Linked DNA regions of Homo sapiens: regions 1 and 2 are each linked to region 3. Evidence: fine-mapped expression QTL. A gene starts in region 3. Each other region holds a variant in brackets. All regions are shown on one strand. Distances are between the middles of the regions. Region 1 overlaps ENDOV (endonuclease V). Region 2 overlaps RNF213 (ring finger protein 213). Region 3 holds the start of RNF213 (ring finger protein 213).

The links.
Region 1: its variant is fine-mapped to the expression of RNF213 in whole blood (INTERVAL, PIP 0.90).
Region 2: its variant is fine-mapped to the expression of RNF213 in monocytes after interferon gamma (Fairfax 2014, PIP 0.95).

Annotation. Positions count from the first base shown.
Region 1 is chr17:80,419,081-80,429,104 of GRCh38, reverse strand. It overlaps ENDOV (endonuclease V), which reads right to left. Exons shown (of 10, transcript NM_173627.5): 3 at 7,143-7,277; 4 at 6,860-6,899; 5 at 5,473-5,585; 6 at 4,005-4,073; 7 at 3,485-3,613; 8 at 445-509. It overlaps MIR4730 (microRNA 4730), which reads right to left and starts at 9,687; the gene lies at 9,612-9,687. RefSeq lists enhancers at 3,151-3,650, 3,651-4,152. The variant C/T (reference allele first, on the strand shown) is at 5,865.
Region 2 is chr17:80,361,540-80,371,334 of GRCh38, reverse strand. RNF213 (ring finger protein 213) reads right to left here. Exons shown (of 68, transcript NM_001256071.3): 39 at 9,447-9,601; 40 at 8,021-8,233; 41 at 7,545-7,726; 42 at 6,782-6,902; 43 at 3,487-3,587; 44 at 3,192-3,374; 45 at 1,664-1,833; 46 at 1,468-1,567. The region is part of intron 1 of RNF213-AS1 (RNF213 antisense RNA 1); the gene reads left to right. Among named protein-coding and RNA genes, the nearest start is that of ENDOV, 49 kb to the left of the region's middle. The variant A/C (reference allele first, on the strand shown) is at 5,517.
Region 3 is chr17:80,255,819-80,265,842 of GRCh38, reverse strand. RNF213 (ring finger protein 213) reads right to left here and starts at 4,991. Exons shown (of 68, transcript NM_001256071.3): 1 at 4,941-4,991; 2 at 2,065-2,269. The coding sequence starts at 2,161. RefSeq lists enhancers at 173-222, 881-960, 1,816-2,372, 2,111-2,400, silencers at 2,322-2,539, 4,114-4,253, 4,634-4,983, 5,263-5,612 and a cis regulatory region at 8,359-8,579.

The DNA of each region.
Region 1 (10,024 bases), 160 kb before region 3:
ACAGAGCCTATCCCGACGATGAGGAAGCTGAGGCTCGAAGAGTGCAAACGCCACAGCTGGCTATGCAGGGCTGGATCATGTCTGACTCCGAGGCCACGCCTTTTCTGCAGAGCCCACGTCCTGGTACCTCACAGGCTAAGTGGACTGAGGAAGGCTGGGGATAGCCCTATTGGGAGGTAGGGCTTGGACCAGACAGGGCCGTAGTTCCAGGGCTTTGCGTGGAGGCAGTGGTGTTTCTGGAGAGTTCCCACGAGAATAGGAGTCTACCCCACTCCACTCTCCTCCCTCTTTGAAGACCTCTCCTGTGTCCCCTGCCTTCCCTGGCCCTGCACTGTCTGTCCTGAGCCACAATATTGCAACAAGGAGAGGCTGAGCCACCGGAAACAGCCCATGCAGGTGTCTGTGAGATGCCCCTTTAGTGCCCCAGCCTCCCTGGGTGCTCACCTCGGTGTGGGTGGCCCGGGGAGTCCCAGCGACTTGCGGATGTGCTCTCGGGAGCAGATGTCAGCCTGGGGGAGACAGACGTGCTGCTGGGTGCTGAGCTGGTCTCTAGACCAGTTTCCCACCAGGAGCTGCTGCTGGCAATGCCTCCATCCCCCACAGAAGCCCACTCAGGACACACAGGTCACAGCCAGTTCTTCAGGCTCAGGAGCCGCGGCCCTGTCAGCGAGTGTGGGACAGGCATGCCTGGGACTTTGGGGTCAAAGCCCCGCAATGGCAGCTCTCAAACCGAGCTGGGCAGTCCCTGAAGGGCCTGAGTAGCTGGTGAGTGGACAGGCTGAGTGAGGGGGTCCTGGGTCTCCTCCCCACCAGTGGCAGTTGGAGCTGCTCAGCCTTCACTGGTTTCCAGTCTGTGCTTCCCTGTAGGCTCTGCGCAAGCCGAGGCTTCCCTGCTAACACTTGCTTCTCTGGGGGCTCTGAGCCCAGCTGGTCTGTCCTCTCCCTGACTAGATCAGCAGTAACCCCTGTCCCGTCTCCAGAATCACCAAGATAAAAGAGGGCGGTGGGCCACAGGCTGGGATGGGGGCAGACCCTAGCAGGGAGGGACACTGAACAGGGCTCAGGTCTGAGTGGGAACCCCCGGGGGCATGGGGGGTCTGGCCCTGGGAAGTCCCCCTGATCCCAGCTCAGATGAGCTTAGATTAGCTTCAGGGCTGCACGACTCATGGAAAGCAACGGCTAATCCCCCAGCCTGCTCCTGCTTCCATTCATGGGGGAAGTGGGGCAGCGGTAGGCGGGGCCAGCACCTCTCACCTTCCCCTGGAGCGGCCCAGCCTGGCCTGGCAGGAGAGCCTGGACCTGGCAACCAGGAGCGCCGCAGCGCCTGTGACCATGGGGCCACCAAGACGGCCCGGCGCGGAGCCAGGGAGAGAGCAGACCAACACTAACCCCGTCTGTGCTCTCCCAGGACCTTCTGGAACAGAGCAGGAGGTGAACCTGTTGAGAGGTGAGTGAGCTCAGGAAGAAAATGGACCGAGAGACAGAGCCAGCCCTGCAGGACACGATCCTCGGCTCACGCCCAACAGTAAGAAGCTGCGGGCTCCTGGTACGGGGTGGCTGCATATCCCAACTGGTTGCGGCTTTCCTTCCTCTGGAGGGTGGGCCCAGGATTTGGCAGGCTCTTTGCTGGTGCTAGGCACAGATCCTTGCTCTATTTCTAGATGCTTAAGGTACTCACAGGCCAGGTGTCCCCTCCCTTGCAAGGATGGGCCACTGTCCTACTCTGGGGCGCGCTGAGGCAGAAAAAGGTACAGGAGCTCCAGGAACTGTGCTGTCTGCAGCAGCAGCACGACCTAAAGTTCCTGTGGCTGAAGGCCTGGGGGACAGTTTCTTGGGTTCTCTCTCGGAAGACCACACGGCTGAGTTGGAATGGAGGAAGAAAGGCCTCTTTCCTGGGGGCTGGGGACACAGCTCACAGGCTTGAGAGTCCACACACCTGTGCCCTGAGCAAAGCCCTGCAAGGCTGTGGAGCCCGCTCTCAGACGCCACCACTGAGCACAGCTCCCCAGGGCGAGGGCCATTGTGGTATGTGGGCTGCTGCTGCCCCCTGGAGGCCACACTGCGCGCCAGCAGCCGGAAGGCCCCGGCCCGAAGGTGGTGGCCTGGGGGTTTTCCACCGGTGCTGCGGCTGCCCCAGGGCAGGCTGCAGGGCAAGCGGTGGGGTAAGATGGGGAAGGGGCAGACACCAGGGAGGCTCAGGGGCTGGGCTGCTGGAAGCAGCATGGCTTGTGCAGACCTGCGTCCACAGCCTCCACAGCACGCACAGCGGCCACCTAAAAAGGCCAATCTGCGGGCGCCCCGCTGCCAACTCACAGCCATCCAAGTCCCTGTGGGTGACGTCTGAAACCCTGGCGCACCCCAAGATGCTCACGGGCTCCCACCCACTCTGTACTTCACTGCCATCTGGCTCCGGCCACACCTTCCTGCTGAGTTTTTGTTTTTTAAAGTTTTTTTGAGATAAGGTCTTGCTCTGTCACCCAGGCTGGAGTGCAGTGGCCCAATCAGGGCACACTACAGCCTCGACCTCCTGGGCTCAGGTGATCCTCCCGCCTCAGCCTCCTAAGTAGCAGAGACCACAGGCACGCACCACCACACTTGGCTAATTTGTTTTTACGTTTTTTTTGTAGAGACGGGGTCTATGTTGCCTAGGGCGCCCTCAAACTCCTGGGCTCAAGTGATCCTCCCACCTCTGTCTCCCAAAGTGTTGGGGTTACAGGCGTGAGCCACCCTCCGGGCCCCCCATTTCTTGAGCACATCAAACTCCTTCCTGCCCAGGGCTGTCCTTCCCCTTCCTCCAGCGGGTCTCTTCCTAAGACTGACTTTTCTTGAACCCTCACTCTGTGGGCTTCTCTGGGACAGCATCCACCCGTGTCTTGTGGTCCCCTGGTCCTATCGAGGCTGTCTGTGGGCATCTCGTGCCAGCTGTCTCTCCCTGGCCCACAGGCTGAGTCCTTTCTCAGCTGAGCTGATGGCTTCAGCAGAGTTCTCACCCTTCCTGGGGGACCGAACACCAGTTTTGTGCTGGGTCCTGGGGCGGGCATACCCAAGTCCCCAGACTGGCGTCTCTGGGGCCTGCACAGCTTTCCTGCAGGAGCCTCCTGGCTCAAGTTCAGCTGCTCCCTCTGGGACCTGAGGGGCTGGCTGGGAACTGGCAGGACACCTCACCACCTGAGCTAACATCACTGATTCTCCAAGCTGGCCTGTATCTGGGTGCAGGAGGCTCAGAGAGGCTGGGAGGCTGAGTGCATGGGGTGCAGGGCCTGGGGATGAACTCTTGGGAGCCCTGCACCCCCCAGTCTACTGTCCTGACTGCAGGGCCCAGCAAGCTCTCCAGCAAGATGTCTGTGACCTGTCCTCGGCCCAGGAACCCCCGTCCTCATGTCACTGCACTCTGACCCCAGCTGAGCTGCTGGGGAGCCCTGAACAGCAGGTGGCAGGAAGCAGAGGAGCCTGTGCTGCCTCCCCGCATCCCCAGCACACCCACCTGGCGCACGGGCTCTGGGATCCGGAACCTGCAGCAGCAGCAAGTCAGGCGCACAGCGGCCTCCAGGCTCATCCTGTGGCCCACGGAGATGTAGAGGGGCCTGGTGCTGCGGTCGTGGCTCCTCAGGGCCTGTGACAAGGAAGGCGAGGGCTGTCCTGTGGGCTGGGCCACCGGGACCAGGGTCAGGACAGCCTCAGCAGCTGGAGCTCTGACAAAATGTCCTGGGGGCAAGGGGGAAGCTGAAGGGGCAGTGCTCTCAGGGGCCAGGGCCTGCCCACCCTCAGGGCGCCTTCCTGCTGCTTGTCCCTGGGGGAGGGTGGGCTCCCTCAGCACGGCTGGAGGAAAGAAACACAAACATCACACCCTGGACTCAGTCAGAGGCAGGAGGATGGATGGACGGGCAGGCGGGGGGTTGATGTGGGCAAGTGTGAGTGCACGCGTGTCTGCATGCACCTGTGTCTGCCTGCAAAGGATCCCCTACCCCGGGGCTTTGGAGGAGCTCAGGGCCCTAGCTACTCACCATTCCCAGGACAGTCCCAGAGTCTCCCAGCAGAGGGAATGAGTCTCCTCGAGTCTGCAGGAGTCGGATCTGGAAAATGGAGGGAAAAATGGGGAAAAAAACCCCTCTCTTCTTGGTGAAGGGCTGAAGGCAAGTCTCTATTTTTTGAGACGGAGTGTCGCACTGTTGCCCAGGCTGAAGTACAGTGGCGCGATCTCAGCTCACTGCAACCTCTGCCTCCCGTGTTCAAGCGATTCTCCCACCTCAGCCTCCTGAGTAGCTGGGACTACAGGCATGTGCCACCACGCCCGGCTAATTTTTTGTATTTTTAGTAGAGATGGGGTTTCACCATGCTAGCCAGGATGGTCTCGATCTCCTAATCGCGTGATCCACCCACTTCGGCCTCCCAAAGTGCTGGGATTACAGGAGTGAGCCACCGCAACCGGCCCAGGTCTCTTTATTTTTAAAACCCAGTCACTGGGCCAGGAAAGGGAAGGGGACTGATCTTGGAGGTGAGCCACAGCCCAGGCAAAGCCACACCACCTGAGACGACACTGAGCGTGCAGGCGGTGAAGTGGTCTTGTCCCTGAGCTGAGGGTGCTGCCCACAAGACCCTGTTCAAACCTGATGATGGGGCTTAGAACAAGGGCAACAATCTGCCCAGGGCCGCTGTGCCAGGCTGGCAGCCACACAGGTGCCGCCACTGCCCAGTGATGGGTGCTGAGCCCGCTTCCTTCCTGTGGCTTCTCTCCTGCTTTGGGCACATCTGACACAGCTCAACAGGCTGGTATTTCTGGCGGCGGTGGACTGGCTCATTGAGTGGGTCTAAGGTCCCCATCAACTCAACAGATTTTTATTAAGCAACTTCTCCATGCAGGCACCTGAGAGCTAGGAGGAATGAGAGACACAGTCTCTGCTCTCAGAATCTGCCATCCAGTGAAACAGCTGGGGGTGTCAACAGCTCCCTCCATTGTGAGTGTCTCACTCCCAGTGCCAACATGGGGTCCCAGAGGAGGAAGATGCAGGGGAAGGTGAGGTAGGAAGAGTGTGGGTGGCAGCTCCAGGCAGGTCTTGGCGGGAGGGGGGCCTGGAGGCTGTGGTACCTGAGCATGCAGGGGAGGAGACAGGGGCTGGGGCAAGGCGGGGTGGGGAAAGCACCAAGTGCGCCCGGGACAGCCTGGAAGCCCGTCCTGTCCCCAGTAACTGGAGGACTTAGCCCTACTTGGTGTGCCACGGTGGCTCAGAGGCAAGGGGGACCAGAGAGGCAGGCACACCCAGGAGGCAGGAGAGGAGCTCAGAGCGCCCTCAGCTGAGACAGGCAATGCAGCACCCAGAGGAAAGCAGGTCTTTCTTACTCCAGGCCACAAGCCAGGGATGAGGAGGGCAGCGTCAGCAGGCAAGGGCTGGTCCAGAAGTGTCCTCATGCCCAGGGCCACCACAGCCCCGCCACTGAGCTGCCGGGCATGGCCTGCAGCAGGCCCCTCCTCACCTTCTCCTTGTGCAGGGCGTTGTTCTCCAGCCCATCCACCTGCAGAAGTTTCTTGGCCACCCCAACACACGGCAGGTCTGTAAGGACGCCAAGGTGGCAGGCCACCCCAAAGCCTGCCAGAGAGAAAGGAGGGTGGGGTTGGGGAGGTGGGGCTGGGGCCTGGCACAGGGATTCAGGACAAGCCAGTCTTACCAAAAGCTTCCCTAAGTGAGCAGAGGTCTGTGGACAGGCAGAGGGCTGGGGAAACCAGATCTAAGTCCCAAGCAGACCTGGGCGAAAGCCCCCTGTGCCCGATGTCCTGGGTGCAAGGCCGTGGAGGAAGCCTCCTTCTCTCTGACACGGTCAGTGCCAGGGTCAGCACCTCGCTGGCGTGCTGGGATACTGCAGCTCTC[C/T]GGTCATTTCCTGCACCTCCCAGCTTCCTCTTCCCTCGACGGTGGCCTGCCAGCGCTGGCACGAGCATGTGGGTCGGCACATGACAACCCTTTGGCTCTGCACCCATGTGCGAGGGCAGCAGCCAGGGCCGAGTCACACTTGCTGGCCAGGAAGGCCCAATGTCACCCCTCCTGGGCCCTCTCTGGGTGCTGCTGCGCCGCCCGCAGCTCTGTATGTAACAGTAAAAGAGCCCATCTCCCTAGGCCGGGCGCGGTGGCTCACGCCTGAAATCCCAGCACTTTGGGAGGCCGAGGCAGGCGGATCACGAGGTCAGGAGATCAAGACCATCCTGGCTAACACGTGAAACCCCGTCTCTCCTAAAAATACAAAAAAATTAGCCGGGCGTGGTGATGGGCACCTGTAGTCTCAGCTACTCAGGAGGCTGAGGCAGGAGAGTGGCATGAACCCGGGAGGCGGAGGTTGCAGTGAGCCGAGATCGCGCCACTGCACTCCAGCCTGGGCGACAGAGCGAGACTCCGTCTCAAAAAAAAAAGAGCCCATCTCCCTCAGCCACGCTCCCTAGGCCAAGGTTCCTGGCATCAGTGGGGGCCTGGGTACACCTGTCTAGTTGTGGACAAGGGGCCTGACGGGCCATGCAGGTTGGGCGGCTGGCAGGGAAGGCCACTCTGAGCCCGGGCCCTGGGACATCTTTTGGTGATCAGGTCAGAACTGGATAGTGGCACCTGGAGATGAGCCAGCACAGGGCACTGTAGAGAAGGCAGTGGCGGACAGGAAAGAGGTAAGGGGTGAAGCGAAAGTAGACAGTCCTTTACCGGCGGTGGGGGAGGCGGGGCTGAGCGCACTGCGCGTCCCCGTTGCGCCGAGAAAGAAGCCATTGGAGGGGGCTGGCGGCAGAGGCCGAGGGCCCAGCATTTTCTGTGGGGGACGACAGAGGTGCCCTCTCCCCCCGCTCTTCCCCACAGTGCCCTCCCTGGACCTCCAAGAGCAGGATTACCTCGGTGGTGGAGTACCCCGTTTCCATCCACAAGAAGGACCTATGGAGCCACAGGGAGAGTCACAGTCAGCTGAGCTGCCCCTCGGCCCTCAGGACAGGGCCATCCCTGAGGCAAGAAGGGGGCACTGTCTCTGGGGTCCAGCTTTTTAGAAATCCTCATTCCTCTCTTCCAGGAAGCTCATGAGTCTCTCCCTGCCACTGTGGTGGTGGCGACCTGCAGCAGCCTTCCCTCCCCCAGGGGGAAGGAGGGACCTTTCTCTCGTCCTAGGGATGAGACACCTGCCTGGGGCATGAGGCCCGGCTCCTTCTCCCGCAGCTGCTGCACCAGCTCCAGCAAGAAGGGCACCTCTCGGAAGGCCAGGAAGCCCGACACGTAGGGGGCTGTGAGGCTGACCATGCGGCTCTCCTCATACACCACCTGACACCAGGCACGCAGCTCAGTGGGAAGCACAGCCTTCGGCCACCTGCTCCATCCCCAGTCCGTCCATGCCCTGCCCCCCTCATCCTTCCCTCTCCCTTACGTCACCCTCATGGCTCCCCTTCCCTGCCTCACCTATGAGATGATGGGTTTGGAAGAAGGAACTAGAAGATGTACCCTGCAAATTGGTGGTGGGCAGGTACCCCCGGGACCTGGTCCATAGGAGCAGACCCCCCCAGGACCTGGTCCGTAGCAGCAGCTCCCCCGGGACCTGGTCTGTAGCAACAGCACCCCCACCCCGCCCCCACCGGGACCTGGTCCATAGCAGCAGCCCCCTGGGACCCGGTCCATATGAGAACCCCCACCCCGGACCCGGTCCACTGGAGGAGCCCCAACTCCCAGACCTGATGTGTATAGTAGGAGCCCCTGGGACCTGGTCCATAGGAGGATTCCCTGGTATCTGGTCTGTATGAGGAGCCCCCAGGACCTGGTCCATAGGAGGATTCCCCGGGATCTGGTCTGTATGAGGATTCCCCGGGACCCGGTCCATAGGAAGATTCCCCGGGATCTAGTTCATAGGATGAGCCCCTGAAGCCTAGACTGTAGAAGGATTCCCTGGAATCTAGTCCATAGGAGGAGCCTCCGGGACCTGGTCCATAGGAGGATTCCCTGGGATCAGGTCCGCGGGAGCCCCCCAGGACCTGGTCTTCATCAGAAGCAAGGCTAAGGCTGCTGGCTGCATCACCTCTGCCTGCCCCTTGCTTTCCTGGTGTCTCCTCCTTTGTGTATTGAAGCCGATGCCCCACCCCACCCCTCCATGGGTTGTTGGAGGCTTAAAGAAGACACAGTGTTGGCCAGGCGTGGTGGCTCACGCCTGTAATCCCAGCACTTTGGGAGGCCGAGGCGGACGATCACCTGAGGTTGGGAGTTCAAGACCAGCCTGACCAACATGGAGAAACCCCGTGTTTACTAAAAATACAAAATTATCTGGGCGTGGTGGCGCATGCCTGTAATCCCAGCTACTCGGGAGGCTGAGGCAGGAGAACTGCTTGAACCCAGGAGGCAGAGGCTGCAGTTTAGAGCACAACATGGCAGGCCTGAGTCTCCTAACCTTGTGTTTTCCTTAGTCACACTGCCCTTAATGTGAAGACGTTTCCCACTATGTCCACATTCTGCAGACCTGTCTACCTTCCTGCAGTTTTGTTACTGAATCCCCCAAATCTCTTGGTGACAGCTTTCAAATCACAACTTCCACTCCTCACTTGTGGCTGGATCAATAATTAAACACACCAAAGCAGACGGAGTGCTCTGTATTAGCACAGAGGGTTGGGGATCATTCTCACAACATCTTCATCAATGACTCAATGGGGAAACTGATCAAATCTGCCCATGACCCAAAGTGGGGAGGGTCCATTCTGATAACAGAATTTGGGTTCACAGAGAAGCCAGCAGGCTGGATCACTGACATCCCCACAGAGTAAAAGTCACTTTGCACAGTGACATGTGGAATTCAAGTGTGGCCTGAGTTCCCACAGGAGGGGCGTGGCTGCTTACATCTGAATCTCTCCCATAATGTTATCATTCAGGTGACATTATGGGATGACTATGATGTGTAATCAGTATGATAATGACACTGTGGCTGTGGAGGAGAATGTCATTCTCAGGACAGGCCTGCTGATGTCTTCTGAGCTGTCACAGTCGCTGGGATGTACGGTACACACGCACACAAAGAGCGCATGTGCGCGAGAGAGAATATTCCAGAGCAGCAACAGCTGAACCTAAGTAGAAGGAATACAGGTGTCCAACGTATCCTTTTCCAATTTGGGGGGATGTATGTACATTTTCAAATTAAAAATCTGGGAAAAGAAAAATCACTGTATGATTAGCGTAGGGGGCAGGTCTGGATGACCAGCAATCTCAACATAAGCCAGTGACCTGGTGCCCCTCAAAAGCTACCAGTGTTTCCAGCTACACCGACTGAAATGGCGTGGGTGACAGTTAGGTCTAGGGACTTGGGTAGACCACATCCAAGTTCCTGCATTTGATTCTGAGTGCAGACGGAAAGATGGATTGTGTGAACGGAGGGCATGACCAGAGGGCCACTGACCAGTGAAGAAGCTGGACGTCATCGCAGCCTCTTGGGACAGTGTGGTCAAGGAGCAGGCAGCTGTTTCCAGCAGCAGAAGGGCTGACAAGCAGAAGGCAGGGAAGATCCGTTCTGTTTTGCTACCTGAAGGCAGAACTGATCGATGGGAGTCACAGACAAGTAGGAGTCAGCTCCCTGCGGAGCAGAACACACTAGCCATTGCTCAGCGTCCAGCACACAACAGGCTCCACCAGGCCTGTGGAGCAGCACACACCAGCCATCGCTCAGCATCTGGCATGGAATGGGCTCCGCCAGAGGCCTGCGGAGCAGCACACACCAGCCATGGCTCAGCATCTGGCACAGAACGGGCTCCGCCATCGTTTGTCAGGGATGCTAAGGACAGTGTTCTTCACGGTGGGAAAAGCAGGCCAGTGGTTCTCCAGCCCAGCTCTGCTTCAGAATCACAGGAAAGCTTATTTTAAAAAGCAGATTCTTATGCTATACTCTGGGAGAGTTTTTCCCCCAGTAAGTGGGGTAGGGCTCTGGAATCTGTTTTTTTTTTTTTTTTTTTGACAGAGTCCTGCTCTGTTGCTCAGGCTGGAGTGCACTGACGCGATCTCGGCTCACTGCAAGCTCCGCCTCCCAGGTTCACGCCATTCTC
Region 2 (9,795 bases), 110 kb before region 3:
CTCATATACTCGGAATAGCGAGGAACATTTTAATAGTTTTTGCAGCTGATTGTGGCTATTATTCCTTAATGCTGTGCCCACAGTGATAAATGGTCATGTCTAGAGGTTAGTTGCAATGTGGAGCCTGAAACTGTATCAGTGCATTTTTCAGTCAATTATGTTAAAATCAAAAAGGTCTGCCCATACTTTAAATAGATTTTTTTCTTTTTTGACCCACATGATTTCATGACATCAGGCATTGGTCATTTGGAAAATATTGGTTCACTGGGCTGTGCAGGTCTTGTAAAGGTTGACACATTTGTATTCTACGTTTTAAAAAAAAAAATCCATATTCATTAATATCACCACAAATTGCCCCAAAATGTCTTTAAGTATTCAAAAGCTCACAAGCTCATAGTGGAGAATATAAGCTTTTCAAAATTTTAATTTCAGCTTAAAAGCTTGAATGTTATCATCACCAACCAACATTGTCAGTTGTTTGGCTGAGGCTGGCTCACTTTGCTGATTTCCAGGAGAGGCCTGCCCAGCCCTGGACACCTGTATCATGTGCATCCTTCCTCCCAGCACGGGTGGCGGTCCATGAACACAGCAGCCGGCTGATAACCCAGGGCTTGTCATGAGTGATTTTCTGTGAGGCAACTGTCTACTCCGGTGTGTAGTGGGAGTGTTTTGTGTGTGCTTCCCATTTCCACAAAACGTTGAAAAGTCAAATCCTCAAGAGTCAAGATTTAGTAAAACTAAAATGAAACTGGCATGAAGAAAACCACGTGTGCATGGCGGTGAAGAAAACAATACCTCCAGCTACTGTGTCTTCACGTGAGGGGCCAGCAGTTTAACTCATCACCGCTTTTTGTAACATCATCATAAGTATCAACATGTTTTTTAAAAAAGGGCAAATTTATCTTAGTAATCTAATTTTTAAAATAGTTTTAACCTCAGAGACCTACCTCACACCCAAGGGTCCATACCAACACTTTGAGAACTGCAATATTAGATCCATACAAGTACCACAGGTGATACTATTCTTGGATGTCAACATCCTTTCCAAGGAAATAGAGCCCATGTTCAGGGGAATAGAAACTTAGGAGACATCTAGGACATTCAGGGTGAGCAGGATTCTAAGCTACCATCTGAAAAATCAGAAAGTTGCGCTGCTGTGGAACCAGGCTCAGCACCACAGATTCTGGCCTCTTGAGTTCCATGTCCCTCACGCCACTGTGGTCCCTTCACGGCACTGTTGGCTTCTTGCTAGATGCGTGTGCTTGTGGGAATACTAAACTCATGTGCCTATATGTGAAAATGTCAGAATACACAACCAGTACAAGTAACCAGGCTGTGTCTCACCGAAAAAGCTCCCCAAGATCATGTACTAGCTACTAGTCACGACAAGAAGACTTGGTAACAAAACGCTGCGATGAAGAGAAAAAGCCAGGGCTTTCCAGAAGCAAGTCTCCATGTTGTTCTTACCTGTACTTCAAAAGCAGTTTCAGTATCACTGAGCGGATGACAGGAGTCTTATCCACAACATCATTGAATGGAGAGAGAGATTTTGTGTGTTCACAGTGTCCTTAAACCAGAAAGAAAAAGGCAGCTCACTGCATGAGACATGCAGAAGCGAGATGAAGAAATGAGGGGCTAGGTTTACAGGAAGAAAGCAACCTACTCTGGGCAGCATCTCTTAAGCGCCCCTTTTGGACGAAGAGGAGAGAGAGCAGGCTCTCAATCACTTCCTTCTCAGGCGGAGCGTTGTCCTTGAAGCAAATGGTGGACACCAGGTCTACGAAGAAACTGTTGCACATCTGCCGGAAGCGGGCATGCTTTTCAATGGCTTCCCTTAGAACACGAGAAACAGAAGACAGGTGGATGGTGTTTCCCAAATGCCTCCTTACAGAATGACTTGAGATTTGCACAGCATTTCACTTTTTTTTTTTTTTTTGAGACGGAGTTTCACTCTTGTTGCCCAGGCTGGAGTACAGTGGCGCGATCTCCGCTCACTGCAACCTCCACCTCCCAGGTTCAAGTGATCCTCCTGCCTCAGCCTCCCAAGTAGCTGGGATTACAGGCACGCACCATCACGCCTGGCTAATTTTGTATTTTTAGTAGAGATGGGGTTTCACCGTGTTGGCCAGGCTGGTTTCGAACTGCTGACCTCAGGTGATCCACACACCTCGGCCTCCCAGAGTGCTGGGATTACAGGCGTGAGCCACCATGCCTGGCTGGCATTTTACTTTTAAATTGAAAGATTCAAGTCACTCCTCTCACCCGTTAGAGCTAGTCTTCAAAACCTCAGCAGATGATATTTACATGCATCCCTTTCTGGAAACACTTTGATCATTTGGACCCGGCAACAATACCCTTCAATATCCCAAAGTATGTCAAAGAACCCATCCACTGGGCTTGCCTGGTGCCCCACTTTTAGGAGGCCTGAGAAGGGGGGAAGGGGAAGGAAAGAAAACCAACCACTCACAGAGCCGGGCTGAGGCCTGCTGAGTCCAGAGAGCCAGAGCTGCTTTTAACCAGCTCCAAAAAGCTAGACAAGAAGTGGGTTGATCCTCAGGTCAGTGACTGTGAATGATACTGATGCATTAAAACCAGTGGCGTCGGCCAGGTGTGGTCACTCATGCCTGTAATCCCTGCACTTTGGGAGGCCAAGGCGGGTGGATCACCTGAGGTCAGGAGTTCGAGACCAGCCTGGCCAACATGGTGAAACCCTGTCTCTACTAAAAATACAAAAATTAGCCGGGCATGGTGGTGCATGCCTGTAATCCCAGCTACTTGGGAGGCTGAGGCAGGAGAATTGCCTGAACCCAGGAGGTGAAGGTTGCAGTGAGCTGAGATCGTGCCACTGTACTCCAGCCTGGGCAACAGAGTGAAACACTGTCTCAAAAAAAAAAAAAAAAACACTGGCGTCTACATTCCTTGGGCCTCTGGTGAGGACCTTTGTTAAGACTTTCTGGCTTAGTTCCTCTGAATTTGTTGTCTGAAATCTGTATGTGTATGTCTTGGGGAGAGAATAATCTTGAGATACCAGATATTTATGAAAGTACGTAAGTGGCGTCTCTTATGATAGTTCTCTGAGGTCAGGTTTTCTACCAAATGAAGGTTAATAGAGTTTATATTTCTGAATATTGTGTTTGCCAAAAAAGGAAAATGAAAAAAAGGATGCTTTCTTGAGAGAAAGGGTGTTGTACCTGTGCGCTTGGGAAACAGCTGGAGAGAATTCGTCTGGCAAGGCAGTTAAACAGTAGGGGCATATCATCTGCTCTGAGGCAAACCAGGCCCTGAGGCAGCGCAGGCAGTGCACGTGGTCGCAGGGCAGACAGACGGGGTCCTTTGCATCTCCCAGGCAGATGGAGCACGGCTGAATCCCAAACCTAGAATCCAAGAAGGGCAATCAGTTCTGAAGCAGAGAAACTGGCCAGAAGAAGTGAAAACCACGAGAGGTTCAGAATTCTCGCCTTCACAGATCCAAACCTAAGGTCTCACCTGCTGAGGGTCTTGCTGGCTGTCTCCTTGCATTCACAGAGAGTGCGCATCACGGCCTCAAAAGGCCCGTGCGTCTTCACGTCAGAGTTCTCTCGAAGACACTGAAGAAAGGCAGGGACAGGAGTCATTAGCAGGGGGGAGGGCTGAGGGCGGCCAGGCCGGGCGACAGAGGGAGCACCACATTCAGGGCCAAGGCTGCGCCGTGTGTGTGGGGTGTGGGGTGCGAGGCCTTTGTGATCCTGTGTTTAACGCTTGAACTCTGAATGCTCGTTTTGTGATTATGCTGCTTGTCAGGGGACTACATTCTCAAGTTACGATTTTCCCTCTTCTTTTTCTTTTAAGGTCTCCTCCGCTCTCACTAAGATATTTCAAACTTTAAGTAATAATAATGACCATCTGTATACCCCCCACCAAGCTTTAAGAAATCTCAGCATTTATGGAATATTTGCTTTAGATCATTTTTTAAAATTTTTAAATTTTTTAAAATTTTCTTTCAGCCTCCCAAGCTGCTGCGATAGATCATTTTTTAGAGAAACAAAACATTATGCATATAGTTACAACTTCACATCCCTCCGTCCCTCCCCAGAGATAACTATATTTCTAAATGTCTGCTTTTAGGATAGCTGTAAGCATATCTGAACATGGAGTTATTATTTTGAATGTTTTAAAACTTGATATCAATGATACCACGTTGTATAAAGGCTTCTGCAACTCATTCTCTTCATGATACCTTAGGTCCAGATCACTCCTGTACCCACTGATAAAGACACCAGTTACCTGTCTGCTGGTTAATGGGCATTTAGGTTTTTTGCAATTCCTGACAGTCCTGTATTCAACATTCTTGCATATGTCTGAGAGCAAATGAGAAGTTTCTCTAGGATATAGTTAGAAGTGGAAACACTGGTTTTTAGGCAATACACATCATCACTGTACAAGATAGTTTAATGGCTGTACTAATGGAATTTGATGGGCAGGCATGATGTTGGTATAGACATCTTAATATTATGTCTACCTTGGGCATTGTGAGCTCAAGGAGAGTTCCTTCCTGTTCCAAGTTTGACAAGGGTATTTCTTTCCAAATAATTTTATCAAATGCTTTCTCTCTACATTTTGAAATGATCATATAGAGTTTATCTTTTAATTTATATAACTGATGACATTTACAGATTTTTTTTTTTTTATTTTGAGCCATCCTTGAATTGCTGGGATTAATCTTACTTGGAAGTGATGTGTGTATTTTTAATATCCTAATAACTTTGTTAATCAACAACCCAATTCAAAAATGGGCAAAGGACTTGAATGGACATTTCTCCAGAGAAGACAGCAAATGCCCAACAAGCACATGAAGGATGCTCATCATAACTAGTCATTAGAGAAATGCAAATAAAAACCACAATGAATTATCACGGTGGCCATTATGAAAAAAATCAGATAGTAACAGGTGTTGCCCATGATGTGGAGAAATTCAGACCCTGGTGCCTGGCTGGTGGGGATGTAAGAAAGATGCTGCAGCCCCCGTGGAAAACAATACAGTGCCTCTGCATAAAGTTAAACAGAGTTATCAAATGATCCAGGAATTCCCCTTCAAGGTACATATCCAAAACAACTAAAAGCCAGCCATGCCCGCAGTCCCACCCGTGCCATCCTGCAGCAGTTCCGTCGACAACTTCCTGCCCGGCCGAGGGAGCCAGCCTCACGGCGGAAGGCAGGGCTTTCCCCCAAGCCTCTTGTTTCAAATGGTCCCAAGGGCTGCTCTTCAGCGGGGGCTGGGTAGGGGTACAAGTCAGGCTTCCAGCAGGAAAACTAACGAGGTAAGGTCTTTGGCTGTGGTTACCTGCACAGAGATCTGACTGGAAGGAAATAAACCAGAAACCCAGTAAGTTTCTGAGGCCATTTTATCGCCAAAAAAAACCCTCCCCACGTTCCTAACCTCCCAAATCCTGTGGGCATGTGAGCAGGCAGGGGCCAGCTCCTTTACCTTTGGGTTTATGGGCACCTGGCCCTTATGACCCACGCTGGACCTGGCTGAA[A/C]GCCCTGTGCATCTCCCAGAGCGCCGAGACATGATGAGACTTGGAGAGGCTGCATGCTGTGTGGGTGTGGGGAAAAGGGTGGAAGGGGGGCACCGGCTGTGTCCTACTATCCTCTCTCCGCCTTTTCCTTCAGCAGAAGAACTCAAGTTCCACCTGGAACATGACCATGCCACGAAAAACTCCTCAGTTTCTTGCAACCAGATAAGGCCGAGTGCCTAAGTTTAGGACCACGAGACACGAGCTGGTGTGGCGTGTGCGTGTCCGGGATTGGGCTCTTAAGGAAAACGGCCTGTCCTCTACCTCCCCTGCTTTCTGTCCCACAGGCTGTGACGCCAGGCCACGGGGTGGAAGCTGAACATTAGGGACAATGAAGGGACAAGACGGAGCGTGGGCACCTGACTCCGTGCCAGCCTCCGGGGAGCTGGTACCTTAGCCTTGGGCTGCTCATACCCATCCTGGGTGGGAAATCAGCTGATACTGTGTCTAAGCCGCTGATGTTTTGATAGGTCAGAGTCAACACATCCAGCATCCATGCTGGCCTCCTTTTAGTAAACCTTCCTGTGCTCCAAAGGTCGGACAGCCAGCGCTGCCTCTTCCAGACCCCCTGGCGGTGAGGGCTCTGGATGTGCTCACGTGAAGGTCACGGGTGCGGGTGAGGCAGAGGCTGAGGCTGTGTTTGGCTGAGTGGCCACTGTTGCTGGACACCACTGCGTGGCCACAGAGGGGCATCACTGTAGGGTCACAGGTTTCTTTCTGCAGACCACCCCACATTAGTAGCTTTATGAAGGGTGTTGAGTGACAGGCATGGTGGCTTCCTGTTCCTTGGTTCTGTTGACAGCACTGTTTTGAAGACCCCAAACCCCGGTGGCATTCTCTGACATCCTTGTCTCCATGACTATGAAAATGGTAACAGCTTCCACAGATGGCCAGGCTAGTGGTCTGTTCTGGGGTCACTCCAAAGGCCAGGTAATCCCTGCCGAAGGTTTCACAAGCATGTTCCCTGCGTCAGCCCCTTTCTGCACACAGTTCCTGGAATCACTTCTAAATGATATGCTCTGACTTAGCAATCAGCAGAGGGTAAATAATTAAACAATTAAACATGGAAAATGTAATGGCCTAGTGATGAAATCACCTTCCTTTGCATGTCTAGACAAAACGGTCAGAGCCAAAAGAGCGTCTCCCAGCCGCAGATCACTGTCAGTGCTGTTCTTCCTTTCGGAAAAGGGTGGATCCGTGCATGTGCTGAGGCCAGCCCAAGTACTCACCTTGTCTAGTAAGAAGACGTGCTCGGTCACCAGCCCCTGTAACTCGGGGACGCGGCTCTCGGTTCCTAGGAGCACGTGCTCCACGAAGAGTGCGGTGGAGAAAATCCGACTCCACTGGGCTCTGTCAAAAGAGGGCGCCACTCACTCACTCACTCGGCTCCCACCAAGGAACCCAAGGGTGAAACGAGGAGGGAGACGGGAGAAGAGATGCGGGACCCGGGGTCCAGGCCCAGCGGCTGGGATTACAAGCAAGCCCTATGTGACATACTTCCTGGCCCGCCCCCAGCTCTCGCTCTCAGACGCTCAGCTTAGCTGGGACTCGGTGTCCCACTGTGATGCCTCTGCATGGGGTACCACCACAACCCGCTCACTGCATGATCCTGCGCCTGTCAAGTCCCACCTCACCTTTAGGGAAGTGGACTCTGGCCCTGAGGGCCTGTCCTGCTCTGTGCACCTGCCCGCCCGGGGTGTCCTTTCTACCACAGCATTTCTCACACGGCATCACAATAGCCCGTCTGCCTTTCTACGGCCCCAGTACACAGTGCGCTCCCTGAATGCACAGCCGCCTCTCGTGTCTCCAGCACCCTAATGAGACGCCTGGCACTCACTAAGGGTTCGGCAAATGCGGAGTGAACGGGTGAGGACGGAGCCCCTCCCATGGCAGGAGCACCTGCCCGTCTTCTCATGGACATGCCTGGCACTTGGCAGGCTCCTGGTGAGCGCGCGCCAGATGAAGCAGTGGGTGAGGGCTCCTGGGTCTCACCTGACTTCCCTGATGACAGCCTGGGCCAGGCTCCCGCTGCCTTGCATGTGCTCATCGGAGCAGATGAGCTCCAGCGGCATGGAAAGATTCTTCACCAACTGTAGCCACGCCTGGGGACTGGGCTTCAGGGTGTTTCTTGTCAGCATCTCCGTGCAGGCCATTGCGGCAAATGCGTCCAGGGTCTGGGGAGACGGACAGCAGGGCGTGGCTGAGCGGTGCCCCTCCCACCGGCCCACCAGAGGCCCCGGCTGTTAGCTGCATGTATACTTGTGTCCCAGGCTTGCGACCTAAACTTTCATTGTCTAGGATGTGAGAAGCGTCAGCGAGATGTGTCCTTAACATCTCTGAATTCAGCTAAGGTATGTGCCTTGTGAAGAAATCTCCCACTTGGAACACAGCCCCAGAAGCTCTCCATTCCCAGAGTGGAGTTGGAAGCACCACAAGGCTTGCTCAGGGCAGGCGGAGGAGGGCCATACCATCTCACATCCAGCCAGCTCATGGTTCCAACGGGCTTCCATCAGGCTGTGGAGAACCTGAGGGTAGATGGTCAGGATTCTGGAAAAGTTCTGCAGACGGCTTCTGAAACGCTGGTAGGCAAGGTGCACCCACGGTAAGGAAACCTCTTCCTCGGGCGCTTCTGACGCCGCTTTCAGTTTCCTAGTGCAGGACCACAGAGCCATCTGCAGAAACTGGGATTCAAAAAAGCTTTTAGAATATATTTTTAAATTACAAAAATGGTATGTTTTCCCCGTGGGAAATCCGAACTATTGGAAAACCATAAAAGAGGAAATTAGAAACCATGTGTGCTATTCTGTCCCGTTTGCTTCTGTCCAGTTTTCTATCTGCCTCTCCTCCCACGTTAAGGTCACCGTGTCGTCTGGGCTTTTTGCCACTGAACATGACATCATGAACTTTCCCTATGACTGAGTATACTTGAAAAACATGGTTTTAATGGCTGCTCAATAACCCATCATACGGCCATACTTTAATTTGCCCATCCTGTATTTCCGGACAATTAAACTATTTCTTATTTTTCGAAGCAAAGCTGAAAAGGACATCCCTGTGAACCAAATATTTGTCCACATCTCCAGTAGTTTCCTCAGGACAGAGTCAGCAGTTCAGATCGGATAAGGTGCTCAACTGTTCTGCCACGCAGCCCTGCAGGGCGCCCACTGTGCACGCTACACTGTCAGCCGCGTGGCCTGGCTATTTCTTTGCAGCACTGGCCGGCGGCTGTTGTTTTTAAAAATCAGCTTTGCAAAATGAATACGTAAACATGATATCTAAAAACTGTTGTGTTGATTTGCTATTAATAGTAAGGCTAAGCAATTTTTCAAATGTTTCCTGGATGTTGATATGCTTAATGAGATTATAAAATTGTTGTTTTATAACGTTTACCCATTTTTTAAAACTTAGGGTATTTTCTTATTGATTCCTAAGAATATTAACCTCTAGTCATATTAGCTGTAAGGATGTTCTTAAATTTGTCACTCTCCTTTTTTATGTACTGAAGTTTAAAATTTTTAGGTAGTCAAAAGTATGACTTTCTATTGAATTTCACTTGTTTATTCTTACCCTGTAGGGTTAGTTACGTATTTAATTTTTTTCAAGAGAAACTCAACATTTAAAAAGAAGCTATGTCAAGGAAATTGGAGGTCTTCTCATGTTCACAGAAAGCTCCGTGTTTTAGGAGCCCCTGGGCGGTGGACTGAGGGTGTAGCACTGAATATTGAGAGGAGACTGGGCGACCCCTTCACCCACCGGCACCCTTCGCTGACCATGTTCTGTTCCCAGACTTCACAGCACCAGCTCCAGGCAGCTGAGGAAACGTCTCCGTGTCTGCATCCAGTCCCCATCATGCAAGCTCTACACCTGACCCTTAGCCAGTATCTAAACATCTACCTTTAATTCCTCCTCCGTTGACACACGCATGGTCAAGAGAATGAAATCCTTCAAGTAACACTGAAGAAGTTCCTGCTGCGGCTCTCCATGGAGCTGGGCAAGAAACCTGCCCAGAGGAGTCTGCTGAAAGATGTCCACGAACTTCTTGGGCAGTCCTGCAGAGAGGAAACCAAGGAGCGGCCTGGAGTGCGTCTAAGTCATGGCGCTCCCCTGCCTCCAGGGGGCTCCGGAGTGAAGGGGAATGGGGACGCCTTGTTGAATGGGAGCTCGTAGACAAAGGGGTACCAACTGCCTGATTTTGTAGGGAATTGAAGGAATAGTCACTGTCTAGACATTTAGGATATTTTTC
Region 3 (10,024 bases):
CCACCTTGGCCTGCAAACATGCTGGGGTTGTAGGTGTGAACCACGGCATCCGGCTTAAGTGCCCCCACTTTAACAGCAGACGCCCTGCATGCCTGGAAGCTCAGCTTTCATTTTAACTCAGCTAATCGCGTGAGAGCTGGTGCTCGATTTTCTACAATTTCAACCCTGTGGCTACAGGAGAGAAGATTCTGATCCAGGGCACACTAAGAAACTCTCAGATCATTTATGCAGAGCTGCAGCCCAGACATCGAATCCCTGAGTTCATCCTTTTCACCACTTTCTCAGTGACGCTGGGGGCAACCAGCCAGCATCACTGTATTTCTTGGTTTTCGATAAATGTTCAAAAGCATCATGTACAGAGTCACCAAATTCCTGGCCTCTTACAAGTGGTGAATTAGGAGTCTCAAGTGCATTTGCTTTGCATGCCTCTAGAAACAGTTCATGCTGCGCACTACCAGTGCTCTCCGCACTATTATTAATAGAAGTGGAGCCCTTAGGCTGGGCGCGGTGGCTCACGCCTATAATCCCAGCACTTTGTGAGGCCGAGGCGGGTGGATCACCTGAGGTCAGGAGTTCAAAACCAGCCTGGCCAACATGGTGAAACCCCATCTCTACTAAAAATACAGAAATTAGCCGGGAGTGGTGGTGGGTACCAGTAGTCCCAGCTACTTGGGAGGCTGAGGCAGAAGAATCACTTGAACCCGGGAGGCAGAGGTTGCAGTGAGCTGAGATTTCGCCACTGCTCTCTAGCCAGAGCAACAAGAACAAAAAAACTCCCTCTAAAAAAAAAAAAAAAAACAAACAAACATGGAAGGACTGGGGCTCACACCCTTGAAGGACAACATCGGAGAGACCCCATGGCGAGCAGCTGGGCAAAGACTGAAAGAGGGGAAGGAGGGAGCCAGGCCGCCCTCTGGGGAAGGGTGGTGCAAAGGCCCTGCGGTGGAAGCACACCTGGTGTATCCAGGAAGGGCCAGAAGGTGGTGGGCTCTGGGGACAGGAGAGGGAGCCAAGAGGAATGGGGTGGGCAGCCGTCTATGTAGGACCTCGTGGCCACCGTAAGGGCTCCTGCTTGTCCTGAGTTACAGCGGGGGCAGGGGCGGATCTTGTAAGGGGGTCTGTGGTTTGACTGTCTGCTGTGCTGAGCAGGAAGCAGGAAGGCAGCATGCAGCGTGGAGGCGGGGAGACCAGCAGGGCCCTCTGCATGTGGGTCATGGAGGAAGGAGAGGGCCCCGGGGTGATGGGTCCGATAGAAGCAGCTGGAAGAATGAGGTGCCCTCACCAGTGGAGGTGGGGCTGGGCTTTGGACACAGAAAGGCTGAAGGTCTGGGGGCTGCTAGTTTTAGGGTTGGTGTTTAAAACCCGGGAGGAGGGGAACCAGTCTGAGGCCCCAGAAGCCAACAAAATTGAGAATGGACTCAAGATGCTCAGCAGGCAAGGCCCGCCTGACACTGCCCCGCTCCTGTCTCTCCACTGGCCTCCCGAGCCAGGGAGGTGCCTGGACAGGTCCTGGGGCCCCCTCACGGCCCCTCAAAAACTAACCCAGGCAGAGCTCTCAACCCCTGCAGAGCCTCAAACTCTGCTTCCCTGCAGCATTCTCTGAAACTCTCTATGAAGCCCTCAGCTCAGCCCGACACTTCTCATTCCCAAGGGGAAGAAAAACCGTGAGCTCTCTCTAGGAAATGAAACTGAAAATTTTCAAAAGCAGGAACCTCCAGCAAAGACCCCGACAAAACTTCTTGTTTTGTCCTCTCCCTGCCCTGGCCCTGCCCTCTCCTCCCACTCGGGTGGGCTCACTCAGGCCGGGCCTGAACGAGGGACGGAAGCACTGGGTGGTGGTCCCCTGGCTTGACCTGTGTGGGAGACTAATCTATGCCACCCCAAAACAGACTCTGTGGTCACTTTTGAGATGGCTATTCAGAGCCACAGAGCCTCAGTAGCCACAGAGGACCTCGGCCCCACCTGAGCTGCCTGCTGCCCAGGGTTTCCATTTCCTGGAAGGGAGGTGAGACATCTCCAGGGGTCCCCACTGCCCCAGCCTCCACCAGCACCCCTGGGCCTCACCTGCTATGGGGGCTGCAGGAGGCAGCCTCTCTCCGCACTGGCTGCAGAACTTGGGGGTTTCCTCCTTGGAGACATGCTGGCACGAAGGACACTCCATGGGTCCTGCTGGGACTGCCCTGCAGATCCAGAAGCAAGAGCAGGAGTCGCTGGCAGCCTGCTATATACTACATGTCCTGTCACGTGACCACGGCTTCAGTTTCATTTTCTGCGAAAGTGAAATCACAGCAGCCCAGCTGGTCCCCTGGTTAATGGAAACCCAACAGGAGCACAGCCCAAGCCCAGCCCCTCCCCGCTCTGTGCTGCCCCCTTGGCTCTCAAGCTTTTGCAGTCTCTGCCCTGGTCCCTCATTCAGCCAGCCTAGAACCATCCCTGCTGCTGAGAACATGGGTTGGGCTGGGTGGGGATAGGGGATGCTCCAGGCAGGCGTGGGGCAGCCACGTGCTGTTCGGCAGGGTCCCACGGCCTGCCCTGAGCAAGGCGCTCAGCCTGCTGATGCCTCACCCTCCTCATCCTCTTAAGGGGACTAAAGCACCTGCCCCACAGGTGATGGGGCCTGAGCAGGCAGCCCAGGGCTACTGGGCTGGCAGTCAGATTCCTAGTAATGGGGGGAGGCTGCCATCCACAAAGCGCGCCACTCTGCACTGACCACCTGCCCTCAGAACAGCCTCTGCGGTGGATGGCATCAAACCAGACCAAGGCCAGGACTCAGGCCTCCGGGGTCACTTCTTGCATCCAGGGTGAGAGTGGAGATGGCGTTTGGGCGCTTGGCCACCTAACAGTGGAGGACCTGACTCTCTCCCTCCCCAGTAAGAAGCCTCAGGGCACACTGGCCCACCCACCACCTTCTTCTGCTGGCTTGGAACCAAAGAACTCCACTGGGGCAGTGGCTGGAGCGGCAGCTGACTGGTGCCTTCAGCAGCCAGGAGGACACTCAGGCCCCCTCCCTGCCCTGGCCCTGCCCTCTCCTCCCACTGGGGTGGGCTCACTCAGGCTGGGCCTGAACGAGGGACGGAGGCACTGGGTGGGGTTCCCTGGCTTGACCTGTGTGGGAGACTAATCTATGCCACCCCAAAACAGATTCTGTGGTCAATTTTGAGATGGCTATTCAGAGCAACCACATACTCAGGAGTTCTGGGAAGCTATCCTTTTGTAAAAGGCTATAAAGGAAATCCACACCATGAAACAGCAGAATGGAGCAGAAGCTCTCTCTGAGGCCCCATTATCTGCCTAGAGGGATCTAGGAACGGTCCCAGGGACACACAAGAGGAGTGCCTGCGGCCTCGCCAGTTCCTCTGAGAGCAGCTCTGAGATCACCTGAGTGATTATCTGCACAACAAGACAACCCTGCACACCTCCCCTCTCCAGCCCCAAGCCCCTGTCCCAATGCCATAAAAACATCAATCATCTGTCTTCTGCAGTCTTCTCTTTGATGAGGTTCCCAATAGGTGTATGGGACAATTTGCATCCCTTTTCTCCAGGTCTGCTGCCCTTTTATTCCAGAGACTAAAATTATCTCTCCTTCAGAGTAGAAGGAGAGTTTAAAACTCCCCTACCCCTGCCACAGCCAAGCCCTGGCTCCCACCGTACCTCCTCCCCTCCACACTCTACCTGAAACAACCACCAGTGGACACTCCCTCCCTCAAACACCTTCAATGACTCCCCACCGCCCAGGCCTCTTTCTTTCCACCCGAAGTGTTTCCTTCTCCAATGCTACACTGGGGAACCACAGACCAGAAAACTCGAAAAATCCTCCAAAAAGCATTTTTTGTTTGTTTGACAGTTTCACCCAGGCTGGAGTACAGTGGGCAATCTCAGCTCACTGCAACCTCCGCCTCCCGGGCTCTAGCGATTCTCCCGCCTCAGTCTCCCAAGTAGGTGGAGTTACAGGCATGCGCCACCACACCCGGCTAATTTTTTGTGTTTTTAGTAGAAACGGGGTTTCATGTTGGCCAGGCTGGTCTCGAACTCCCGACCTCAGGTGACCCACCCGCCTTGGCCTCCCAAAGTTTTGGGATTACAGGCATTAGCCACTGCGCCCGGCCCCCTAAAGCATCTTATTGTTCCATCTGCTCTAGGGGCCGGAAGACACAAGAGAGAGCCCCAGGCACCCAACACTGTTGCATTCAATCCGCTTCCTGTCTTTTCTCTGACATTTTTTCCCAAGCACAGACACTGCCACCCAAATCAAAGCCCATCCCCCAACCACAACCAAAGTCAACAAGGTGGGGGCAGGGAAGGGCCACCACCATGTTTGCACAGCTCCTTCCCCTCCCGCCCTGGACTCCCCCAGGGCCCGGCCCGCCGGCTTGCAGGCAGCCATCCGGGAGGGGTGCCCACCCTGGCCTTGAGCCCCGCGCTCGGGCGACTTCGCCAAGTCGGAAGGACGCTGCGCGGTGCGGTTCAGACGGGGCGATGCCTCCCTCGTAAAAGTTAGGAGTCTGTTTTTGCAACTTCACTTTTCCGTTGTTGCCATTCGTACAGGCGCAGGATTCCCGGGCGGACCTGCAGGCCCGGGTCCGGCTGTCCCCTTCCACTACACCCCCCGTGCCCCGGCCACTTCCCGGGGGCAGCACTGCCGGGGCGCAAAGCCTCCTCCGCGCTCTGCGCTCCGGGGATGTCGCCGGGGTCCCAGGCGTGCCCGCTGCCCCCACCCCGACCCCTCCCGCAGCCGGGGAACAGGGTCAGTGGGCGCCGCGGGCGGGGCTGGACCGGGCACCCCGGCGGCGAAACCGAAACTTGGAGCCGGCAGGAAGAGGCGGCCGGGAGGGGCATCCGGACGCAGGCGCCGCTCCCCGGGACCCGGCCCGCCGGCCCGCGGGGCCCACTGTATCCTAGCCCGCTCCCCGCCCCGGGAGACTCTCCAGGCCCGCTCGCACCTGCGGCCCCCGAGCTCGCCGCCTGCCGCGCGCTGTCGCCCCTCGGGTCACGGGGCCCTGGGCCCCGCCCTGCCCGCCGCCGCCGCCGCCGGCCCCGCCCTGCCCGCCGCCGCCGCCGCCGGCCCCGCCCTGCCCGCCGCCGCCGCCGCCGGCCCCGCCCTGCCCGCCGCCGCCGCCGCCGGCCCCGCCCTGCCCGCCGCCGCCGCCGCCGGCCCCGCCCTGCCCGCCGCCGCCGCCGCCGGCCCCGCCCTGCCCGCCGCCGCCGCCGCCGGCCCCGCCCTGCCCGCCGCCGCCGCCGCCGGCCCCGCCCTGCCCGCCGCCGCCGCCGCCGGCCCCGCCCTGCCCGCCGCCGCCGCCGCCGGCCCCGCCCTGCCCGCCGCCGCCGCCGGCCCCGCGCAGGCGTGTGCGGAATTCCCCGCCGGTGGCGCCTCCCAGTGACTCCGGGCCCCCAGCCCCCGGGAGGCGCCTCGGGCCGCTGCGCGCCGGGTACAGACGCGGGAGGGGCCTCGGTTCCCGCCAGGCGTGGGGCGCATGCGGGTCTCCCGGAAGCCCAGACCCCGGGCAGGCCCGAGCAGCCGAGTGGGGCGGGACAGGCGCGCCCCCCGCCCCGGCGCCCAGCACCTCGGACAGTGTCTGCGGCCGCGCAGAGCCGGCGGCCAGCCTGGGAGCGGCCCAGAGGGCGCCCGGCGGGTGCAGTGGACGTCGTCAGCGCGCCGCGTGGGGGCCTTTGCAGATTAAGGGACCTCCGCGGCCCCGCGCGGAGCGCTCTGTCACTGATGATGGAGGGGCCACGGCGGTCCGCACCATCCCCCGTGCCTCAGTTTTCCCATCTGTGAGGCTCATGGTGTGACCAGGGACCTCCGTTTTAAAATCACCCACTTTCTTTTTCTTCCTTCTCCTCTCACCCCTTCATCCCGTCCCTCTCTGGACACTGCGCCCCTCTGCGCATTCCAGAGGGGACCCTCATCCTGAAACAATTCCCGGCGCGGAACCCCAGCTGAATGCTCCTGCTTGGGGCGGGGGGTCGCCAACAATTAGTCCAACATCCTCGACAGCCACCCCTCCTAACCGACAACTGCCCACGACAGCCATGGGAACAAGACACAGACCCTGCCCTTACCCCACTCCCCACGGTGCCCACGGCAAGTTTCCCTAGAAGAACTCGATGGCAGCCTGGGCAACATAGAGAGACCCCATCTCTACAAAAAAAATCATTTAAAAAAATTAGCTGGGCGTGGTGGTGCACCTGAAGAGGCTGAGGCAAGAGGATCGTTTGAGCCCAGGGAGCTCCAGGCTGCAGTGAGTCGTGATCATACCACTGCACTCCAGCCTGGATGACAAAGTGAGATCTTGCCTCAAAAACTAACAAACACACAAAACCTGAGGATAAATTTTTAATTTTAGGGTGGCACTTTATTTATTGTTTGTTTGTTTTTTGGAGACAGTCTCACTCTATACCCCAGGCTGGAGTGCAGTGGCGTGATCTTGGCTCACTGCAAACTCCACCTCCCAGTTCAAGTGATTCTCATGCCTCAGCCTCCCGAGTAGCTGGGATTACAAGCGCCCGCCACCAAGCCTGGCTAATTTTTGTATTTTTAGTAGAGACGGGGTTTCTCCATGTTGGCCAGGGTGGTCTCAAACTCCTGACCTCAGGTGATCCACCTGCCTTGGCCTCCCAAAGTGCTGGAATTACAGGCATGAGCCACTGCGCCCAGCCAAGGTGACACTTTAGAACGCTAGTTGGGCATCTTCTCGCTTTGCTGGGTCTCCAATTAAAACCTGCTTTTTCCTCCCACCAATCTTGACTGCACCACTGCACTCCAGCCCTGGCGACAGAGTGAGACTTTGTCTCTAAACAGTTAATTTCAACTGTTTCTTTTGACTTTTTCAGTATGACTAGTCGAAATGTTTAAATGACTTGCATGGCTCACGTTGGTGGCTTGCATGATTTTTCTGCGGGACAGTGCTGTCTCTGTGATCACAGTCTGCCCCTACCAGCTGCTGCAGCAGGTACACTAAGCCCTTGGAGCTTTGCCTCTTGCCCACGTAATAGTGCTGGGCCGGAGTGCTGCTCAGCACGGTGTTCTATCTTAACCTGAACATTTCCTTACTATTAATCCCAGGTCTTTAGATAAACTCAACCAATTGTAAACCAGAAAATGTTTAAATTTACCTACAGCCTGGAAGCCCCCTGCCCCCACCGCTTCAAATTTTCCTGCCTTTCTGGACCAAATCAATGTATTTCTCAAATGCATTTGATTGATGTCTGACGCTTCCTTAAAATGTATAAACCAAGCTGCACCCAACCTCCTTGGCACATGTTCTCAGGGCCTCCTGAGGGCTCTGTCACAGGCCATGTGTCAGGCCTCTGAGCCCAAGCTAAGCCATCATATCCCCTGTGACCTGCACGTATACATCCAGATGGCCTGAAGTAACTGAAGAATCATAAAAGAAGTGAAAATGGCCTGTTTCTGCCTTAACTGATGACATTACCTTGTGAAATTCCTTCTCCTGGCTCATCCTGGCCCACTGAGCACCTTGTATCCCCCACCCCTGCCAGCCAGAGAACAACCCCCTTTGACTGTAATTTTCCACTACCTACCCAAATCCTATAAAATGGCCCCACCCCTATCTCCCTTCACTGACTCTCTTTTCAGACTCAGCCCGCCTGCACCCAGGTGATTAAAAAGCTTTATTGCTCACACAAAGCCTGTTTGGTGGTCTCTTCACACGGACACGCTTGACACTGAGAACGTATGGTTTGTAAAGTATGACTCCCCAGACGCCTTAGGTAGGAATTTGGGCAAGATAAAAAAAATCAGAGTTTAGTCTTCAAACTGCAGAAATGTACCGTCTCACAGCTCTGGAGGCCGGAAGCCCAAGATCAGGGCGTTGGCAGCATTAGATCCTGCCGAGGCTATAAAGAGTATCCGTCCCAGGCCTCGCTCCTGGCTCCTGGTGATCACTGGTGTGGACTGAATTAAAAGTCCTGAAACTCTTTGACAGAGACTAACAGACCCTCTTTTGGCTAAAACACAACAACAACAACAAAATATTCAAGTCCCAGCCACAGCAGGACAGAGGCTGGCCGTGTCCCACCTGCTTCCCCGCCCCAGCCCTCTTACTAATCACCACTCCGTCCTATCAAAGGCTGAGGATGCCTCCACTAACTGTGCCCACCCGGCACCTGGTCTTGTTTCTGTGGTTCTGACGGGCCTTCTGCTGAGGATGCCTCCACTAACTGTGCCCACCCGGCACCTGGTCTTGTTTCTGTGGTTCTGACGGGCCTCCTGGGGATGTGCACTTCGTGGACTTGTACCCTACATGTCACCTTTTCATGTATAGGGCCTGATTATAATGCATTTAACTGTTAAGTTTTCTCCCCAAAGTGAACATGGGTCATATGTTGCTGTATTTTTCATACATGTAAGCCTAATACTCATGCATATGCGATTCCTTCATGAATATTCCTAGCCCCTCCTGTAACCTATTGAGCATGTATACTTGGCCAACCCTTTCAGAGTAAATTCCTGTCTTACTCCTCCCTCCCTCCCTCCCTCCCTCCCTCCCTCCAAGTGCCGGCCATGCTTCCCAGGCTACAAGAAGAGCCTCCGGCCGGGCTCAGTGGCTCACGCCTGTAATCCCAGCACTTTGGGAGGCCAAAGCGGGCGGATCACAAGGTCAGGAGTTCAAGACCAGCCTGGCCAATATGGTGAAATCCCATCTCTACTAAAAACACAAAAAAAATTAGCTGGGCATGGTGGCATGTGCCTGTAATCCCAGCTACTCGAGAGGCTGAGGCAGGAGAACTGCTTGAACCGGGACCCGGGAAGTGGAGCTTGCAGTGAGCCGAGATCATACCACTGCACTCCAGCCTGGGCTACAGGATGAGACTCCGTCTCAAAAACAAAACAAAATTTAAAAAAACCTCCTTGCAGGCTGCAAACCTTTATGAGAAACAAGTTCGCCTTTATTAACGTTTGAACCTCGACGTTCTTCAGCTGACAGTCGCTAGAGTTCCTTGGCTTGTCCCTGCCTTCATGTTCACAGCACATGCTCCATGTGTATCGATGACCAAATTTCCCTTTATAAAAACACCACTTCCAAATTAGCTGGGAGAGGTGGCGGGCGCCTGTAGTCCCAGCTACTCAGGAGGCTGAGGCAGGAGAATGGCCTGAACCCGGGAGGCGGAGCTTGCAGTGAGCCGAGATCACGCCACTGAACTCCAGCCTGGGCGACAGAGCAAGCCTCAGTCTCAAAACAAACAAAACAAAACAAAACAACAACAACAACAACAACAACAACAACAACACACCACTTCCAGCCTGGGCAACATGGCAAAACCCTGTCTCTACACAAAATTTAAAAATGTGGCTGGGCGCAGTGGCTCACCCCTGTAATCTCAACACTTTGGGAGGCCGAGGCGGGCAGATCACTTGCAGTCAGGAGTCTGAGAACAGCCTGGCCAACATGGTGAAACCCCATGTCTACTAAAAATACAAAAATTAGCCGGGCATGATGGTGCATGCCTGCAATCCCAGCTACTCTGGAGGCTGAGGCAGGAGAACTGCTTGAGTCCGGGAGGTGGAGGTTGCAGTGAGCCAAGATCGCACTATTGCACTCCAGCCTGGGCCACAGAGTGAGACTCTATCTCAAAAATAAATAAATAGATGAATAATAAATAATAAAAATTTGCCCTGCATGGTGGCTCATGCCTGTGGTCCCAGCTACTTGGGAGGCTGAGGCAGGAGGATCACTGGAGCCAGAGAGCCGACTGGTCAAGCCACCGCAATCCAGCCTGGGCAAGAGTGAGAGCCTGTCTCAAAACAAAAAACAAGAAGTCACCGCTTATATAGGATTAGGCCCACCCTACTCCAGCATGGCCTCATTTTAACTTGAACTAACTACATTTGCAACAACTCTATTTTCTTTTTTCTCTTTTTTTTTGAGATGGGGTCTCACTCTGTTGCCCAGGCTGGATTTCAGTGACACAATCAGGACTCACTGCAGCCTCGACCCCCCCAGGCTCAAGTGATCCTCTTGCCTCAGCCTCCAGAGTAGCTGGGACTACAGGCCTCCCAAAG